Regions from separate parts of the Homo sapiens genome. Here region 2 is linked to region 1. Evidence: fine-mapped expression QTL. A gene starts in region 1. The other region holds a variant in brackets. All regions are shown on one strand. Distances are between the middles of the regions.

Evidence for each region.
Region 2: its variant is fine-mapped to the expression of PLAUR in whole blood (TOPMed, PIP 0.93).

The regions. Positions count from the first base shown.
Region 1 is chr19:43,667,126-43,672,492 of GRCh38, reverse strand. It overlaps PLAUR (plasminogen activator, urokinase receptor), which reads left to right and starts at 2,324. Exons shown (of 7, transcript NM_002659.4): 1 at 2,324-2,427; 2 at 4,802-4,912. The coding sequence starts at 2,373. LOC124904724 (a long non-coding RNA gene) reads right to left here and starts at 3,729. Exons shown (of 3, transcript XR_007067264.1): 1 at 3,310-3,729; 2 at 2,013-2,467. RefSeq lists an enhancer at 2,256-2,555 and silencers at 3,476-3,555, 3,596-3,825.
Region 2 is chr19:43,645,753-43,651,119 of GRCh38, reverse strand. It overlaps PLAUR (plasminogen activator, urokinase receptor), which reads left to right. Exons shown (of 7, transcript NM_002659.4): 7 at 1,977-2,541. The coding sequence ends at 2,230. Among named protein-coding and RNA genes, the nearest start is that of CADM4, 8.6 kb to the right of the region's middle. The variant C/A (reference allele first, on the strand shown) is at 2,065.

The sequences.
Region 1 (5,367 bases):
TTCCTAGAATCTCATCAGGCTTCCACCTCAAGGCCTTTGCACTGGTTGTTCCTGCTCCTTGGAAAGGTTCCCTGCCCATCTGCCCTACTTCTTCCCTCACTGCATTCAGCCTCTGCTTGAATGCCACTTGCTCAGGGAACCCCTCCTGGATCACCCACCTAAAACAGCTCACACCTCATTTGCACCCAGATACTTCCTTCAGCCTGCTTTGTTTTCTCCAGTTTGCTTATCCCTCTCAGACAGTGAAAGATTAGATAACACATATCTGCTCCCCACTGTCAACACAACAAAAGGTGGGAACTTTGCTTTGCGTCCTGCTGTGCCCCTAGCTCCTGGACCAGTGCCCAGCACAAAGTAGGTCCTTGGTAGATGTTAAAGGAATGTGTTGAGCCCTCCATTTCGGCCAGCAGCTATTCCAGGCATTGCACCTACATTAAATTGCTCTGTTTAGTTAGATGCATCCTAAGACGGGGAGACAATTTTATCTTTAGTATTTTATTTTACTTAAAAAAAAAAAAAACTTGGCCAGGTGCAGTGGCTCATGCCTGTAATCCCAGCACTTTGGAAGGACAAGGCAGGTGGATCACCTGAGGTCAGGAGTTCGAGACCACCCTGACCAACATGGTGAAACCCCATCTCTACTAAAAATACAAAAATTAGCCGGGTGTGCTGGCGTGCCCCTGTAATCCCAGTTACTCAGGAGGCTGAGGCAGGAGAATTGCATGAACCCAGGAGGCGGAGATTGCAGTGGCCGAGATTGCACCACTGCACTCTAGCCTGGGTGACAGAGTGAGACTTCGTCTCAATAAATAAATAAATAAATAATAAAAAGAAAGAAAAAACTTATTATAAGCCTTTTCAAACCCACAGAAAAGGAGACAGAATGGCATAATATGCCCTTATATACTGATTACCTTTATATAATTGATACAACCATTTGGCTATTTTGCCTTTATTTTCTACTCAAGTATTTATTTATTTATTATTTTTTTGAGACAGGGTCTCGCTCTGTTGCCCAGGTTGGAGTGCAGTGGTGCAATCATAGCTCACTGCAGCTTCCAGTTCCCAGGTTCAAGCGGTCCTCCCACCTTAGCCTCCCAACTACCTAGGACTACAAGTACGGGCCACTGCACCCAGCTAATTTTATTTTATTTTTAATTTCTTTTGGAAAGATGAGGGCTCTTTATGTTTCCCAAGCTGATCTTGAACTCCTGGCCCCAAGTGATCCTCCTGCCTTGGCTTCCCAAAGCATTGGTGTTACAGGCATGAGCCACCTCATCTGACCTCTTCTAAAATATTATAAAATAAATACAGACATCAAAATGAAAACAAAAGAAAAAGAAAAAACAAAACAAAAATCCCCAAAACAACAACAACAAAAAATGCAGACATCAATAACATTCACCACTAAATACTCTAGTAAGCATCTGCAAAAACAAACAAACAAACAAAAACCAGAATCCCACCTAAGCATACAGCCATTGTCGTAACAGTGATATCTACTTTTTTGGCTGAAGTGTCTTTTTTTTTTTTTTTTTTTTTTTCTGTGAGAAGGAGTCTTGTTCTGTTGCCAGGCTGGAGTGCAGTGGCACGATCTCGGCTCACTGCAACCCAACCTCCGCCTCCCGGGTTCAAGCGATTCTCCTGCCTCAGCCTCCTAAGTAACACACACACGCCACTACGCCCGGCTAATTTTTGTATTTTTAGTAGAGACGGGGTTTCACCATTAAGTGTTTTAATGTAGGTGCAATGCCTGGAATAGCTGCTGGCCAAAATGGAGGGCTCAACACATTCCTTTAACATTTACCAAGGACCTACTTCGTGCTGGGCACTGGTCCAGGAGCTGGGGGCACAGCGGGAAGCAAAGCAAGGGTTAAGTGTTTTAAGTGTTTAAGAGATGCATATTTCAGGATGCATCTCTAGATAAGGACATTTTCCAAAATACCAGTATCCCTCCTGACAAAACTAACAAAAATCCTGTTAGCCAAATAATCAGCCACATTCATATTTACCGTCAAAGTTTTTATCCTCATTTTACAGCAGTGGAGAGCGATTGCCCCGGGTCCCACGTTAGGAAGAGAGAGAACTGGGATTTGCACCCAGGCAATCTGGGGACAGAGCTGTGATCACAACTCCATGAGTCAGGGCCGAGCCAGCCCCTTCACCACCAGCCGGCCGCGCCCCGGGAAGGGAAGTTTGTGGCGGAGGAGGTTCGTACGGGAGGAGGGGGAGGCGCCCACGCATCTGGGGCTGACTCGCTCTTTCGCAAAACGTCTGGGAGGAGTCCCTGGGGCCACAAAACTGCCTCCTTCCTGAGGCCAGAAGGAGAGAAGACGTGCAGGGACCCCGCGCACAGGAGCTGCCCTCGCGACATGGGTCACCCGCCGCTGCTGCCGCTGCTGCTGCTGCTCCACACCTGCGTCCCAGGTAGGGGCTGGGTCCCGAACGCCTGCGCCTGGAACAGGGTCTAATTGAGGGGGTTGGGGGTTGTCAGAGGATGAGTTGGAGGAATGCGGTTCAGTCCTCAGCATCCTCCCTAATCAAATAATAGTAATTCTCGTGCTTTGTGCAACGCCACGCGGCGCAGTACCTGGCACTCAGTAGCTAAGGAAATATTAGTGGAGCAAAGGCATTTAGCTTTACATAATTTAGTGAGTGCTTTTTTTTTTTTTTTTTTTTTTTTGACAGAGTCTCACTCTGTCGCCCAGGCTGGAGTGCAGTGGCGCGATCTCGGCTCACTGCAACCTCTGCCGCCCGGGTTCAAGCGATTCTCCTGCCTCAGCCTCCTGGGTAGCTGGGATTACAGGCGCCTGCCATCGCGCCCGGCTAATTTCTGTATTTTTAGTGGAGACCGGGTTTCACTCTGTTAGCCAGGATGGTCTCAATCTCCTGACCTCAGATGATCCACCTGCCTCGGCCTCCCAAACTGCTGGGATTACAGGCGTGAGCCACCGCGCCCGGCCCAAGTGTTCTTTTTTTAAATGGAGTTCTTCGAAGCCTCTTCCTTGCAATTTCAAACTAGGCGATGGGACTTTATTAATTTCGTTTCGCAGAGGAAACTAGGGCACAGAGAGGTTAGATAACTGGCCTAAAATCACACAGCCAGTGCTTGAATACGCAGGATCTGACCCTGCAGCGCCCCCCAGCGCTCTCCACGCTGCTGGGTCTCCCCCTCTGAGAAACGGGGGGACAGGACCCCCTTTTACAAAAGGCCCAAAGGGAGGCTGACTGAGCGGCGCAGAGCCAGTGCTGGAGACCCGGGACTGTCCCTCAGGACCTTTCCCTCTCACTGAGGCGACTCTCACTTACTTCCCCGGAAAATGTGGGGGGCTCTGGGTCGAGGAATTCGAGAAGGAACTGAGTCAGGGCGGGTGGCCACAGGGTGTTGGGGCCGCGATGAATAACCCGGAAAGCGCTCGAGACCGCGGGAGGCCGGGAATGAGTAACAGCTCCGGGATACTCCGAACGCGCAGCTGGAAAGGGATGTCCGGGAAGGCCCGGAGGTCGGGGACCGGGCCTAGGGACTGGGCTGCAATCTCGGGGCGGAGCCTGGGGCGGGGAGAGAGTGTCGGGGAGGAGCCAGAGGGCGGGGCTGGAACCTCAAGGAAGAGCTACGGGAGAGGTTACAGACCGAGGAAGAGCTAGGAGCGGGGCTAGAACCTCGAGGCGGAGCCAGAGGGCGGGGTTATAACCTCGAGGCGTAACCAGAGGGCGGAGTTATAACCTCGGGAGGAGCTAGAAGGTGGGACTAGACTCTTGAGGGGCAGGATTATAACCTCGGGGAGGAGCTAGAGGGCGGGGCTGGAACCTCAAGGAGGGGCTAGGGGCGGGGTTATAAGCTTGGGGAGGAGCTACGGGGCTGGGCTAGGACCTCAAGGGGCCAAGGGGCGGGGGTTACGACCTCGGGGAGGAGCTACAGGGTGGGGCTGAAACCTCAAGAAGGGACTGGGGCGGAGTTATGACCTCAGGGGAAAACTAGGGGCGGGGAGAGCTAAAGGGCGAAGTTAGAATCTCAAGGAGGAGCTAGAGGGAGGGACTAAAGCCTCGAGGAGGAGCTAGGGGCGGGGTTATGGCATCGGGGAGGAGCTAGGGGGCGGGAAGATAAGGTCAGGAAGAGCTAAAGGGCGGGGCTAGAACCTCGACGATGAGTCTGGAGCGGGGCCAAAACCTAGTTGGAGAGCTGGAGGGCGGAGACAGAACTTCGCGGGAAACTAGAGTATCTAACAATAGAAACTCCGGAGGGCTGATGGGGCCGGGCCTAGAATTTGGGAATAAATTAGTGGGCCGGGAGAGGCTCTGGAGCCGGGTAGAACCAGGGGGAGTGAGTGGAGGGATAGTTCCATTAGGGCACTGGGAGTGACGGTATAACATAAAGATCGACGCGGGTGGGGCAAGGCTAGAACGTCCCCAGCAGAACTGGAGAGGCGTAATCGACCGAGGGCCGGTGCGGTGAGAAAGACCTAATAGGAGCAGGAATAGAACGTACTGATAGAGAGGGCGGGGATACGACTGTCAGGATATACGCCTCACGAGGACAGAATGAAAGGAAAAACGGGCCAAGGCAGGACTTTGGGAAAGGACTTGTGGGCAGGGATAGAACGTTCAGTTAGTGGGGTGGAGGTAGAACGTGGACAACGGACAGACTGGAAGTACCGCCGGCCGGAACCCAGCAGAACATGGACACGAATCTGAATGGACGGGGCCTGGAGACTTGGTGTTGGTATTGGGACATGCAGGGGTGAGCGGGGGTCTTGGAGCTAAGCGTAGTTAACCTCTCCTCTCCTCTCCCTCCTTCCCCCAGCCTCTTGGGGCCTGCGGTGCATGCAGTGTAAGACCAACGGGGATTGCCGTGTGGAAGAGTGCGCCCTGGGACAGGACCTCTGCAGGACCACGATCGTGCGCTTGTGGGAAGGTGAGCTTCCCCCCAACCCACACACCCCTCCAGCGCAGCATGGAACGCGAGTGATTGAGAAACCTTCCTCACCAGTAACTGGGACATGCAAACTAAAAACAAACAAACAAGGAGAGCCCATTTCACACCCACCAGATTGGCAAGCATTTAAAAATCTGACAATACCCGGGTTAGTAAGGATGTGGAGTTGCAGACCGTGTCTGTGGTGGGGGAGTAAATTGGCACATCAACCACTTAGAGCGATTCGGCAATATCTAGTCCAGATGAAGATTAACATATGCTACAGCTCAACTCCTCGCCATGCAGAAATGCCAAAGAACCTTGGCCACATATACCCAGGGACACATGTATACGAATGTTCTTAGCAGCAATGTTTGTGACATGGAAAATTGGAAACAGGCTGGGCACTGGCTCACACCTGTATTTCCAGCACTTTGGGAGGCAGAGGCGGATGA
Region 2 (5,367 bases), 21 kb after region 1:
GCAACAAGAGTGAAACTCCGTCCCAAAAAATAAAATAAAATAAAATTAAATTAAAATTAAAACTGAGAAATCTTTTTTTTTTTTTTTTGAAATGGAGTCTTGCTCTGTCGCCAGGCTAGAGTGCAGTGGCATGGTCTCAGCTCACTGCAACCTCCCCCTCCTGGGTTCAAGCAATCCTCCTGCCTCAGCTTCCTGCATAGCTGGGATTACAGGCATGAGCCACCATGCCCAGCTTATTTTTGTAATTTTAGTAGAGACGGGGTTTCACCATGTTGGCCAGGATGGTCTCGATCTCCTGACCTCATGATCTGCCTGCCTCGGCCTCCCAAAGTGCTGGGATTACAGATGTGAGCCACCGTGCCCAGCCAAAACTGAGAAATCTTTAAAGATTTATTTATGAATTCATCTTATAACAATAAAAACTCATTACACATTAAGATAAATAACATTTTAATGAAAAATAAGTATAGTTTCCAAAGAAAAAATGTAATGATAGCCAGGCATGGTGGCTCATGCCTATAATCCCAATACTTTGGGAGGCCAAGGTGGGCGGGTCACTTAAGCCTAGGGATTTGAGACCAGCCTGGGCAACATAGCAAGATCCTGTCTCTACAGAAAATACAAAAGTTAGCTGGGCATGGTGGTGCATGCCTGTAGTCCCAGCTGCTTGGGAGGCTGAGGTGGGAGGGTCACTTGAGCCTGGGAGGTGGAGGTTGCAGTGAACGGAGATTGCACCACTGCACTGCGGCCTGGGCAACAGAGCGAGACCCTGTCTTAAAAAAACAAACAAAGAAACAACAAAAAAAAAACCAGCCAGGCGCGGTGGCTCACGCCTGTAATACCAGCACTTTGGGAGGCCAAGGCGGGCAGATCACAAGGTCAGGAGTTCGAGACCAGCCTGGCCAATATGGTGAAACCCCGTCTCTACTAGAAATACAAAAATTAGCTGGGCATGGTGGTCGCGCCTGTAGTCCCAGCTACTTGGGAGGCTGAGGCAGAAGAATTGCTTGAACCCGGGAGGCAGAGGTTGCAGTGAGCCGAGATCGTGCCACTGCACTCCAGCCTGGGTGACAGAGTGAGACTCCATCTCAAAAAAAAAAACAAAAAAAAAGCGTAATGAGAAAACTGGCATTATTTTGCTGTGTTGCACATCTCTTTAATGTCCAGCTTAATAGAAGACAGCTGGGTCCTCATGGAAGCTTCTGCTTTCAGTCTCTTGCAATATCACATGTCCTGGAGTTTTTGGAAAAGCCCATTGTACACTTATGAGAGTGAAAAAGCCATGTGAAATCACAGATCTCCTGAAAGGGTCTCTGGGGTCCCTGAGCCACACTTTAAGAACCGCTGCTCGCTTCCTTTCTTTCTTTTTTTTTCTTTCCTTTTCTTTCTCTGTCTCTCTTTCCCTTTCTTTCTTTCTTTCTTCCTTCCTTCCTCCCTTCCTTCCTTCTTTCCCTTCTCCTTCCTTCCTTCCTCCCTCTCTCTCTCTTTCTTTCTTTTCTTTCCCTTCTTCCCTTCCTCCCTTCCTTCTTCCCTCCCTCCCTCCCTCCCTTCCTTCCTTTCTTTCTTTTTATTTGTTTTTTGAAACAGGGTCTCACTCTGTTACCCAGGCTGGAGTGCAGTGGCGTGATCATAACTCACCACAGCCTCCATCTCCTGAGCTCAAGTGATCCTCTCATCTCAGCCTCCCAAGTAGCTGGGACTACAGCTGTTTTTTTCTTTTTTATGTTTGTAGAAACAGAGTTTTGCTATGTTGTCCAGGCTGGTCTGGAACTCCTGGGCTCAAGCTATCCTCTCTCCTTGGCTTCCCAAGGTGTTGAGATTACAGGCATGAGCCACCACACCTGGCCCTGAGAACTGCTGCTTTCTCTAGGTGGTAGTGAAGGTGGCACCCACTGCAAGGTGGCAGGTCACCTACTGGAGAATTCCAGTCCTGGGCCCAGGAGCTGGAAGTCTCACTCCGTCTTCTCTTTCCTCAGAACCGAAAAACCAAAGCTATATGGTAAGAGGCTGTGCAACCGCCTCAATGTGCCAACATGCCCACCTGGGTGACGCCTTCAGCATGAA[C/A]CACATTGATGTCTCCTGCTGTACTAAAAGTGGCTGTAACCACCCAGACCTGGATGTCCAGTACCGCAGTGGGGCTGCTCCTCAGCCTGGCCCTGCCCATCTCAGCCTCACCATCACCCTGCTAATGACTGCCAGACTGTGGGGAGGCACTCTCCTCTGGACCTAAACCTGAAATCCCCCTCTCTGCCCTGGCTGGATCCGGGGGACCCCTTTGCCCTTCCCTCGGCTCCCAGCCCTACAGACTTGCTGTGTGACCTCAGGCCAGTGTGCCGACCTCTCTGGGCCTCAGTTTTCCCAGCTATGAAAACAGCTATCTCACAAAGTTGTGTGAAGCAGAAGAGAAAAGCTGGAGGAAGGCCGTGGGCCAATGGGAGAGCTCTTGTTATTATTAATATTGTTGCCGCTGTTGTGTTGTTGTTATTAATTAATATTCATATTATTTATTTTATACTTACATAAAGATTTTGTACCAGTGGACAAGGCCAGGTATGCCCTTCTTTGTAGTGTCTATCTTTGGGAGGATAAATGGTGGGGGACACCTTTTCACAGGCTCCTGGAATCAGGGGTCATGTTTGAGGCCCCTGCCTAGGTTGGAAGTCCTCCTGGGGGCTGCCTCCACATCTATTTCTGGACTCCAAATGCTGACAGAGCAGGAGCACTGCCATCTTGAACAAACACCACCATTCTTAGTTCCTCTTGATTAAAAATCGGCTAAATCCGGACGTGGTGGCGGGTGCCTGTAGTCCCAGCTATTCGGGAGGCTGAGGCAGGAGAATGGCGTCAATCCGGGAGGTGGAGCTTGCAGTGAGCCGAGATTGCACCACTGCACTCCAGCCTGGGTGACAGAGCAAGACTCTGTCTCAAAAAAAAATCAGCTAAATCCAGCCCCAAAACATCAGCCTAATGGCTACCATCAGCATAACCAGAAACATTCCAACCCTAAGATAAACCCCTCTCTGACCAGAAACATGCCAACCCCCAGATAGCCTCCCTTCCGACCAGAGACTTTCCAACCCCACAATAAACTTTTCCTCACATGAAAACATTCCGAACCTAGATAAGCACCCCCTTCCAAAACTCTTAAATATCCTTAGTCTGTAAAAAAAAAAAAAAAAAAGGGCTCTCTAACCTAACTCAGCCAAAAGCCCCCCTCAGGTTGGTTTTCTCTAAAATAAACCTGTCCTTCACCGTCAAGCCACATTTCATGTTTCTTTCCTTTTCCTTTTTCTTTTCTTTTCTTTTCTTTTTTTGAGATGGAGTTTCACTCTTGTTGCCCAGGCTGGAGTGCAATGACACAATCTCAGCTCACCACAACCTCCACCTCCTAGTTCAAGGGATTCTCCTGCCTCAGCCTCCCAAGTAGCTGGGATTACAGGCATGCACCACCACACCCGGCTAATTTTGTATTTTTAGTAGAGACAGGGTTTCTCCATGTTGTTCAGGCTGGTCTCAAACTCCCAACCTCAGGTGATCTGCCCACCTTGGCCTCCCAAAGTGCTAGGATTACAGGCATGAGCCACCGTGCCTGGCCTCCTCTTTCTTTAATTCTTACAAATGCAAGCTTCCAGATCACACACTGAACACTAACCTTCTAGTCTTCTCCTAAACTTCAAAGGTTGCAACTATTTTGTTGTTCTAAGGAGACATCCCCACATTTCCCAGCATGCTTTGGGAAAGGAGACGGATAGAAGATAACCTGATGGCCAGAACTCCCTGCATGCACTGCAGTGAGGAATAAGGACAGGAGTGCACTTCCCCTGATGTGCTGGGGACCGGGGATAAAGGCTGGGCTCTATTTCCCGGGATGCCTCAGGACTGTCAGAAAAAGAGACAGAACTACCATTTCAATGGCACTCTAGGAGCACAATATTGAAAAATTCATGTTCTTCTCATCATTTGCTAAGGCAACCCATGGAGACAAAAATTACATTCCCCATCAAATCTTGTGGCTAATGAAGAAAAAATAAGATATCTTCGGCTGGCTGTGGTGGTTCACGCCTGTAATCCCAGCACTTTGGGAGGCCGAGGTGGGCAGATCACTTGAGGCAGGAGTTTGAGACCAGCCTGGCCAATTTGGCAAAACCCCGTCTCTACTAAAATTACAAAAATTAACCGGGTAAGGTGGTGGGTGCCTGTAACTCCAGCTACTCGGAAGGCTGAGGCAGGAGAATCGCTTGAACCCAGGAGGAGGAGGTTGTAGTGAGCCAAGATCACACCACTGCATGACACAGTGAGACTATCCCCAAAAAAAAAAAAAAAAAAAAAAAGACATCTTCCATGGTATTTGGGGGCAGGTGAGGGACAAGGTTCTTGTTTAGGGCTTTCTCTAATGACATATCACCACCTGTCACTGTAGTGGCTTAAAGAAGTGAGGTCTGTACTTCTGCCTCTTGAATATGAGTGACTCTGTGACTGCTTTGACCAGTAGAATGTGGTGGAAGTTTTGCTGTGCTATGTTCTGGAACCAAGTTTTAAGAAACTTTCATTTTTCACTTTCTGAATCTTAGAACGCTCACTCTGGGGAAGCTGGTTGCCATGTAAAAGTACTACTGCCCTGAGACCACCATGCTGTGAGGAAGCCCAAGCTACTCATGTATAAATGCCATGTGGAGATAGAGCCCCAGATGTTTCAGCCATCTCAGCCCAGGCACCAGACAAGTGGGTGAAGAAGCCACCTTGGACATGTAGCCCCAGCAGATGTGATATAGAGAAGAAACAGGAAACTTGGCTATATTAGTTTCCTAGGGCTGCCTGTGATAAATTATTACAAACTTTATAAACTAACACATTGTGTGCCTATATCAAAACATCATGGAAGGACAGGCACAGTGGCTCATGCCTGTAGTCCTAGCACTTTGGGAGGGTGAGAAAGGAAGATCTCTTGAGCTCAGGAGTTCAAGATCAGCCTGGGCAACACAGTGAGACCTCATCTCCACTAAAAATAAAAAAAAATTGGCTGGATGTGGTGGGGCATGCCTGTGGTCCTAGTTACATGGGAGGCTGAGGCAGGAGGATCCCTTGAGCCCGGGAGGTCAAGGCTGCAGTGAGCCATGATCCCACCACTGTACTCCAGCCTGGGCAACAGAGCCAGACTCTGTCTCCAAAAAAAAAACACTAAAACCCAAAACCATATTACATATGTCCTGTAAATATACACCACTATTATGTATTCATAATACTTAAAAATAAAAAATTAAAAACACACACACACAAATCTTACAAGCAAGGTGGCTTAAAACCACAGAAACTTGGCCGGGTTTGGTGGCTCATGCCTGTAATCCCAGCAATTCGGGAGGCTGAGGC